Homo sapiens: one gene and its partner. The protein of the gene in region 1 purifies or fractionates together with the protein of each later gene. This does not show direct contact. Each region holds a gene or a part of one and is shown in the gene's direction. Other genes may lie near its edges.

Region 1 (7,185 bases):
TGCAATCACTTCTCAGGTCTCTTTCGGCCAAAACTTAGAGGACCACTTATGACTGCAGGGAATCTGGGAAATGCAGGTTCATTAATTTTTTTAATTAATTAATTTATTTATTTATTTTAAGATGGAGTCTTGCTCTGTCACCCAGGCTGGAGTACAATGGCGTGATCTCAGCTCACGCCACCTCCCAGGTTCAAGCGATTCTCCTGCCTCAGCCTCCTGAGTAGCTGGGATTACAGGTGCACGCCACCATGCCTGGCTAATTTGTATTTTTAGGAGAGATGGGGTATCACCATGTTGGCCAGGCTGGTCTTGAACTCCTGACCTCGTGATCCGACCACCTCGGCCTCCCAAAGTGCTGGGATTATAGGCATGAACCACCACGCCTGGCCTGGGAACTGCAGTTTCCAGTTGGGTGGCCATATGCCTCTAAAATTTAGAGGATTCTCTTATTAAAAGGAAGAAGGGAAGAATGTAATCTAGGGGGAAATTAGCAGGCTGTGCTACAGTCCACACAGCAGCACAGGCCCATGACAGTTATCAAATCCTGCTGGGCATGAGCTGTGAAGACCTCCACCCTGGCAGTAGAGTAAGTTCTTTGGTTAGCCCACCTGGCTGCCCTTGCTACTGTTTTCTGGGAATAACTCCCTTGACCTTAGTTCTCTGTATTATCTGAGTTTACTCTCAGATAGGTTATTCGTTTACTATAGAGCATGGTCACACCTTTTTGTCCTTCTTCCCTTTTGCTTTTTTTTCTGCTTGGAACTTGGATATAATGGCAGGAGCTGCATCAGCCATCTAGGGGCCATGAGGGAGTCTTAGAAACCTCAGCCCTGATTTCCTTGGTCTTACGACATTAATAACTGGCTACTTCTGACATTCTTCTATGAGAAAATAAACTCTTATGGTTTAAACCACTGACATTGGGTCTTTGTTACCCAGAGCCAAACACAATTCTCAACTGATATGGAAGGCCTCCCTAAGAAGATGACATTTAAGCTGAGGCTTGAAGGGTTAGCAGGTGGCAGATACCAGAATAGCAGAGGAAAACCAAAAGCCCTTTCCACTCCACTACACTGCTGACTGTCTATCATCCTCTAGGTAGGGAGATAAGAGACTGGAGAAGTCAGGAGAGGAGATTTCAAGGTGGGATTGATTGGCCAGGAATGATAGTGATGCTGTGAGGAAAGGAGGGCTTGGTGATGTGCTCTCATCTCCATGTGTACGTTTCCTTCATGGCACTTGTCACACAGAAGTTGTGATGACATGATGAACACCCGTCTGTCTGTTCTGCTAGACTGGAGTCTCCATGAGGGCAGGGACAATCCTTTCGACTGTTTATCACTGGCATAATGCCTGGCACATGGCAACCATGGAACAAGTTATTGGATAGGCCGTAGTAGAAAGAGCTAGGGTAAGAGGAGGGAGAGAAAAGACACAGAAGCAGAAGAGTGGAAAACCTGGGATTGTGCAGGCTCCTTGTTAAGGGGACACCATCCCATTAGAGCACCACAACACTCCTCAGAGGCAGACAAGGGGGATTGAGGTCAAATGGTTCCTTCAGGCACCCACATGGCATGGGCTGTCCAGCTCACAGCCTGTCTCTCCTGGCTACCCAACAGGCATGATGAGCTCTGAGTTGGCTATCAGTGGTACCCCCCTCCCTAGCCATAACAATTGATCCAAGACATAGGTACATGACTCAGGCTGGACAATTAGAGTCCTTTCCAAGAATTTTTAAACAAGAGCTAAGAAAAGTAGCTACTTCCTCTGCAGCTATGAGAGCATGAGCCTGGGTTTCCTATCATCTGGTCAAGCTTCCCGGAGGTGGCCAGCCTGGGGTAATGAGCCTGGCACCCAGAGAAAAGCAGGGAAAGAGCCACAGAAACAAAGCACTACGGGTCGTCAAATCCCTGGTTCCCGTATGCCTCAGGTCAGCTCCACCCTGCCCTTCCTAGTTTATGAGCCAATAAATTCCTTTTGTGTTTAAGAGAGTTAGTGTTGAGCTTCTCTCTTGAAATCTATCAACTACCTTTCTCTCCAAAATGCACCCTGAATCTGACCACTTCTCATCATCTCCACTGCCACCAGCCTGGTCCAAACTACTAATATGTTTTGCCTGGATGAATATAACAGCCTCCCAATGGTCTCCCTGTTCCTCTCTTGCTCTCCTACAATCCATTTTCCACCCAGCAGGCCAAGTGATCTTAGACAAATGTCAATTAGATTATGTCACTTTCCTGCCTAAACCCTCCAGTGGCTTCTCATCACTTTTAGGGTAAAATACAAACTCCTTACCCTGTTTTACAAGGCCCACCATGAGGAGTGGATACTCCTGTCTGTCCTCTGACTTTATTCCATGCCACTTCCCCCTCATCACTATGATTCAGCTATATTGGCCACCTTTTTGTTCCAGACACATTAAGCTCATTATTTCTTCAGTGTCTTTGTACCTGCTTGCTTTCTTTTCTTTTCTTTTTTTTTCTGAGATGAAGTCTTGCTCTGTTGCCCAGGCTGGAGTGCAGTGGTGCGATCTCAGCTCACTGCAACCTCCGCCTCCCGGGTTCAAGCAGTTCTCCTGTCTCAGCCTCCTGAGTAGCTGGGACTACAGGCGCCTGCCACCACACCTGGCTAATTTTTTTATTTTTAGTAGAGACGGAGTTTCACCTTGTTGGTCAGGCTGGTCTCGAACTCCTGACCTCAGGTGATACACCTGCCTTGGCCTCCCAAAGTGCTGGGATTACAGGCATGAGCCACCACGCCTGGCCTTTGTACCTGCTTTTTCAGGTCTTTGCATGGTTAACCCCTCATCATTCAGTTTTTAGTGTAGTAATATAGTAATCATGTCTCCCCCACCTCATCCCTTTCTATCTTATTATGTTGTTTAAGATATTCACAGAAATGATCACTGCTATAATTATCTTTTAATTATGCTTTTGCTTACTTTTTTGTTGGCTATCTCCCCTGGAGTTTGAGCTCCAATGGAGCAGGGCCCTCACCTGTCTTATTTACCATGTATCTACACAGTAGATGCTCAAGTAACATTTATTCAATGAATAAATGAATGCATTACAAAATGAGGAGGAGCTGGAGTTCCAGGCAGCCCCTAGATTCCCTGTTGGGTCTTCTTTCCTCTGCCCCATGCACACACAGTACACACTGTTGACTAATGTTTAACTCATAGAGGAGTTTGGGCTTGACATGTGACCTCACTCAGCCTCTGTTTCATTTGTGAAGTAAGAAATAAGAGTGGGCGGCTGGGCGTGGTGGCTCATGCCTGTAATCCCAGCACTTTGGGAGTCTGAGGTGGGCAGATCACGAGGTCAGGAGATCAAGACTATCCTGGCTAACACGGTGAAACACCATCTCTACTAAAAATAGAAAAAATTAGCCGGGCATGATGGCACATACTTGTAGTCCCAGCTACTCAGGAGGCTGAGGCAGGAGAATTGCTTGAACCGGGGAGGTGGAGGTTGCAGTGAGCCAAGATTGTGCCACTGCTCTCCAGCCTGGGTGACACAGCGAGACTCCATCTCAAAAAAAAAAAAAAAAAAAAAAAAGGAGTGGGCTTATTTCACATAAGCCCACTCCTTGCTAAACCAACAATGATTGCCTAAGATGCACGGAGCCAGTTGGTGGAAAAGTCCATAGACTATCAGAGTTGAATGGTGCTGGTCAGGTGGGAGGAGCACCTCATTCCTGCTTCCCCATCAAGTTACTTGCCTTGGCCTGCTTCCTACTCTCTGGGTCACTGGTGCTCACACAGCCTTTCCCAACCCCCACCTCCAAAGGTCATATTTTACAGCTCCTTGTGAGGAATTCACATCATGCCATGACCTTCACTATGAGAAAGCACAGGCTGTAAAAGGCCAGCCTGGCTCCCTGCTCCGTGGTTAAATATTGATGATATTGGGCAATAGAGACCTGGAGTGGGCACACTACATATCCCCCTGCAGTGATGGAACCCACAGACCGCAGGTCCTCTGCAGTCCATTCTCCTGCCTGTCCAGAGGATCCGGATGTTTTCTCTTTACTTGAGGCCAACACATAACAATGAAAGCACTGGGCTACTGGTGCTTTCGGATTGTGAAAGTCAGGTGGAGCCTGTTTGCACTCTGAGTGCACTCATTCAAGAGGTCAGTCACCCTGGAGTGATACAGAAGGCTCCAGGCCTGGGCGTGTGCTAAGGCCAGAGCTACCAGATGGGTCCAGCTGCCGCAGGCTCTCCAGGCACTGTCCCCTAAGTGACAGCTGTTACTGCCTGGGAGAGCTCAAGTGCAAAGACTATCCTGTTCTCCCATAAAGAGGAGGAAAAGGAAGATACAGAAATCGGTGCTGCTCCCAACAGCAGATCAAGGCAGTCGTCAGGAACTCAGGATCCGGGGTGAGTGTCCTCATCTTGCCTTGGGGATGGGTGGCCCAGGTCTTTGGCAGAAGTCACAGTCCAATGGCACGATGGTTAAGCCCTGTTTAAAATGCAGAGATCTCCCAGAGGGGCTTAAGGAGACAAGACAACTAAATGCAGTATGACATCCTAAATGGGATCCTGGAACAAGAAAAGAACATTAAAGGCAAAACTAACAAAATGCAAATAAGGCATAAAGTTTAATTTAATCATGCAAATGACAATATGATGCTCACTTTAGAAGCAAACTGGATACGTGCTTTGATAGAAATATGTCTTTGGCCGGGCGCAGTGGCTCACGCCTGTAATTCCAGCACTTTTGGAGGCCGAGGCAGGCCGATCACCTGAGGTCAGGAGTTCGAGACCACCCCGGCTAACGTGGTGAAACCCCATCTCTACTAAAAATACAAAATTGGCCGGGTGCGGTGGCTCATGCCTGTAATCCCAGCACTTTGGGAGGCCGAGGCAGATGGATCACCTCAGGTCAGGAGTTCCGAGACCAGCCTGGCCAATGTGGTGAAATGCTGTCTCTACTAATAATACAAAAATTAGCTGGATGTGGTGGCGGGCACCTATAATCCCAGCTACTCAGGAAGCTGAGGCAGGAGGATCACTTGAACTCGGGAGGCGGAGGTTGCAGTGAGCTGAGATGGTGCCACTACACTCCAGCCTGGGCAACAAGAGTGAAACTCTGTCTCTAAATAAATAAATACAAAATTAGCTGGGCATGGTGGTGGATGCCTATAATCACAGCTACTTGGGAGGCTGAGGCAGGAGAATCACTTGAACCTGGGAGGTGGAGGTTGCAGTGAGCTGAGATCATGCCATTGCACTCCAGCCTGGGCAAAAAGAGTGAAACTCTGTCTCAAAAAAAAGAAAGAAATATGTCGCTTGTTTCTGTGGCATCTAACATAGCTGAGGAGGGCTGACTCTCGGTTCTGGATTTGTATCCAATTTGTCATTTTGGTTTTTTGTTGGTTGGTATGTGTTTACTGTAACAATATTAAACATATTTTAAACATATTTTGGCCAGGCGCGGTGGCTCATGCCTGTAATCCCAGCATTTTGGGAGGACAAGGTGGGCAGGTCGCTTGAACTCAGAAGTTCAAGGCTGGCCTGGGCAAGATGATGAAACCCCATCGCTACAAAAAATACAAAAATTAGCCGGGCGTGGTGGCACATGCCTGTTGTACCAGCTGCTCAGGAGGCTGAGGTGAGAGGATCGCCTGTGCCCGGGAGATGGAGGTTGCAGTGAGCCAAGATGGTGCCATTGCACTCCAGCCTGGGTGACAGAGCCAGACTCTGTCTCAAAAAACAAAAAACAAAAAAACACCACTCCACTGTGGACAATAGCTTACCTGCGTCTTTGTACACTGATCTGATTAGTTCCATTAATTAAATATCAAAAATTGGAATTGTTGTCTCAAAAGGTATAAGTACAATAATACCTACATTTAAAAATGCATACAAAGGCTGGGTGCAGTGGCTCACACCTGTAATCCCAGCACTTTGGGAGGCTGAGGTAGGCGGATCACCAACCTGGCAAACATGGTGAAATCCCATCTCTACTAAAAATACAAAAATTAGCCAGGTGTGGTGGCACATGCCTGTAGTCCCAGCTACTCAGGAGGCTGAGGCAAGAGAATTTCTTGAACCTGGGAGGCGGTGGTTGCAGTGAGCCGAGATCACACCATTGCACTCCAGCCTGGGCAGCAAAAACAAAACTCCATCTCAAAAAAAAAAAAACATACATACAAATAGACAAAATATACATAGAAATATATACACACATTAAAAATGGAATTACATGTATTGTTCTCATGAAAGCAGTGTATACGCATAAGAAACCACACAATACAGGAGTGGTCAACATGAATATCCCATGTGTCTAAATCTCATCCCACACCCTAGAAGAAGACTGTGTTTGGTTTCTCAACTTCAATACTTTTCTTTGTGAGTTCAGGGGTTTGCATATGGCACAGGGGCCTGTGGCTGATGTTACTAATCAATCCAGGCACTCTTACATCTGAGACTGGATGGAATGTCACAATCCTTCTTGGACAGTGCTCTGGACAGTCAGTTGGAGCTAGAACACAAGATCACATCTGTTGGCCATTCTTGTAACTTTGTCTTTCCATGATTTTAGATGGGTAGGTAGGCAGATAGATAGATAGACAGATAGATCGATAGATGATAGATAGATAGATAGATAGATAGATAGATAGATAGATAGAATCTCCCTCAAATGAGTAAGTAGGCAGTGTGCATGTGAGTCCTTGAAAGTCTAAGAAAGGGCCAGGCACGGTGGCTCAGGCCTGTATTCCTAGCATTTTGGGAGGCCGAGGCGAGTGGATTACCTGATGTCACGAGTTCAAGACCAGCCTGGGAAACATGAGGAAACCCCATCATTACTAAAAATACAAAAATTAGCCTGGCGTGGTGGCATGCCCTGTAGTCCCACTACTTGGGAGGCAGAGGCACAAACGAGAACCGCTTGGACCCAGGAGGCATAGGTTGCAGTGAGCTGAGATCACGTCACTGCACTCCAGCCTGGGCGACAGAGCAAGACTCCGTCTCAAAAGAAAAAAAAAGAAAAAAAAAAAAGTCTAAGAAAGGTCTTTTTTTCTCCCTGACTTCCATCTCCACCTTGGCATATGAATGATCATTCACATATGAAAAGCTTAAGTCAGTATTGTATTTGTGTCAAAATATTTTCCCTTGCAATTTGTAGATATGCCTTTTTAGTTTTCTCAGAGCATTTAGTGCTAGAGGAAACTCTGATG
Region 2 (2,898 bases), on another chromosome or scaffold:
TTTTTAAATGTTAGAAAAAGCAGATCTGTCATTGCAAAGTAACAAAAATTTTAAGCTTTTAAAAATGTAGATTTTTCATATTTTTAAAATTTGAATCTATTTGAGCTTTAGTTCAGCAGAATTAAATTTTTACTTGACATTATCATTAAAATTGCTAGGTATGGAGAACAATTCCTATTTTATTTTGAACACTGAGAAGAGTAAACTTTTCCTAAAACACTTTATATTATAAATGAAAATAAATTGCTAGTTTATATTTTAGATATAAACATCATATTTTTTATTAATACCTACATCAAATGGAAAATATCTGAAATTTTTTTTCCATAGCAGGTATTTTCTACTAGAAGTAGTTTTACTACTTTTCATTTAGAACAGAGTATGAGTCTTAATCTGAAGTCTTTTTCATGCCCTTGTTTTAAAAAAACTACTTTTTTTGGCCTCAAAAAAATCAAGGGTGTAATTTTTAATAAATTGTTAATCCTATGTTTTGTAATTTTCATTTTAGGAGCTTGACTTATTTTTTTCTCTCTCATAAAAACACATTTGTTTTAATTGTAGGAGAAATTTTCTCAGCATTTTGCATGTTCTTTCTAATCTTTGTTGGTCTGAATATATTGGTAGTAATTACTGTAATTATTCAACAAAAAGCATATCCGTTCAAAAATTTTTCCACTATGTCTTTTTTCTAGTGGCTACTGTTTTAGTTTTCTAGTTGAATATCTCTGACAAGCTTTCGTATGGTTTTGTTATATTTTCATCTACATGTAATGTGTTATTAATTTTATTAAATGAAAACTAATCACCTTCATGTGGAAATGCTCTGAGAATTGTCCTTAGGCATTTGGTAGTAACCAGCTAACCAAGAAGAAACAGAGAAACCAGAACTTCATATGGCAGTCCATTTAGATGAAGAATGATGATATAAAATCTGGTTCCTTCTTAGCAAAATAAAAAACAAACAAGAAAAGATACTAAATGATGTTAATTTTCTTACTTTATGATTTAGAAGTCCAGTTATAATATTAAAACTCTGTGACATAGTTTCTTTTACCAAAACCATGAACCTACTCCCCGTATCAGGTATTTTCGATGGTTTAGAAGTACTCAAGTCACATCACATTCAAGTTAGAAGTTTTTTTTTTGTTGTTGTTATTTTAAATTTTTAACAAATATAAACACCAGCAGATACTATTACTTGCTTAAAAAATTGGGAGGGGGCACTTTTCATAGTCTTGGAATGCTAAGAAGTTTTATTTTTAATATTGTGACAGAAAGCTTTAAGTATTTAAGAGCTCTGTATTATATTTGATACTCTTACAGTTAAAAACTTTTCAAAATTAATACATTGTTAATTATTGACCAGTTTTGAAGTTTGGGTTTAACTGTAGTTGAAATGGAAGGACTCTTGTTTTACACTTGTATTAAAGATAAATTTATTAAAATAAGTTATTTAGCACCAATGGAGTATTACATTATTTTTATGTTTTATATTTTTCTTGAGGTAGAGTTTCAGAACTCATCTAGTATTTTGACTAATATAGTATATATTCAGTGATTACTGTTCAAATGGGACATTGGTAGAAACTTTATTAATCTATGCAAGTATCCTATAACCCTCAATTCAAGGCTCTTTTGTAAAAAATGTACTGGAGAACATGGCTTAGGCCTGAAACCCATCCTGAATCTATTCAGGTCACCTGTAGAGTCTTGACTTGGATTTGCAAAGCAGATTGTTAGACTCCTTACCCAATGTGAAGTGTGAATAAGGCCTATAGGCCTGCCTCACACAGCTAATCAGAGGTGGCACTGAGAAAGTCAAGTCCTAATAGGTCTCCTTAAAAAAAAAAAGGAGACAAAAAGCTGGCAAGAACATGAGCCAGCTTCCCTCAGTGCTGTCACTCTCAAGTAAAACATGGCCAAATGAATATCAAACTGGTTTATCAGATTAGTCACTCTTCCTTACTGAGGGAGTATCAAGTAAGGGCTGGAGAGAGACCAGATATGTGGAGTTGTTGGCTTTCAGTGGAAATGGTAGCCTCCCTGTGGGTAGAGACCAAAAGGTAGAGAGATGACAGAAGGGAGACTCTGATTAGTGTATTTTTTTTTTGTCTATTCCTTAAAGCCCAGACACCTTTCCATTAAAATCTACTTCAAATCACAAGTTGATTACAATTGAGTGGAACATCCCATGTTGTAAATGGAATAATGTGTTCAGAATGCTCTTTCTTTCCCCCAATAAAGCCCTTTATAGTGTTTGCCCCAGGTGTAATTCACATCCTTGGTAATATTCATTCAGTTGTTTATTCAACAAATATTGAGTACCAGTTATGGGTCAATCATTGTCCTAGGCTCTGAAGATAACAGAAAACAAGAAAAATGCTTTCTCCCTTGGAGTTTATATTCCAGTGGCGGAGAGACAGATAATAAACAAATATACTCTTGTGGTGGCAATAAAAGTTACGAGTAAATATTAAGTAGGACATAAGGATAGAAAGTGAGGGGAGTGGGATTGTTTGTTACAATAGGACTGCCAGGCCTTTCTGTTAAGATTGCATTTTAGCAGAGACCTGAAGGACATGAGGGAGCACACCATGTAGACTTGTGGGTAAATGTAAGGTTCATACTGATCCTTCATATACTTGATTTAAAGCATATATTCCCCCCAAATAATTGAATTTATTTTTATTTTTATTTTTTTTTGTTATTTTTTTTATTATACTTTAAGTTTTAGGGTACATGTGCACATTGCGCAGGTTAGTTACATATGTATACATGTGCCATGCTGGTGCGCTGCACCAACTCGTCATCTAGCATTAGGTGTATCTCCCAATGCTATCCCTCCCCCCTACCCCCACCCCACCACAGTCCCCAGAGTGTGATATTCCCCTTCCTGTG

The links.
Region 2: the proteins of SLC51B (region 1) and TMEM38B purify together in Homo sapiens (affinity purification with mass spectrometry; 2 studies listed by BioGRID and IntAct, with this or other methods). This does not show direct contact.

Annotation. Positions count from the first base shown.
Region 1 is NC_000015.10:65,041,202-65,048,386, forward strand, and holds the start of SLC51B (organic solute transporter subunit beta), read left to right. Parts: upstream 1-4,185; 5' UTR 4,186-4,381; exon of another isoform or gene 4,382-4,512; coding exon of another isoform or gene 4,513-4,543; intron 4,544-7,185.
Region 2 is NC_000009.12:105,774,354-105,777,251, forward strand, and holds the end of TMEM38B (trimeric intracellular cation channel type B), read left to right. Parts: 3' UTR 1-2,276; downstream 2,277-2,898. UniProt on the Homo sapiens protein: Intracellular monovalent cation channel required for maintenance of rapid intracellular calcium release. Acts as a potassium counter-ion channel that functions in synchronization with calcium release from intracellular stores.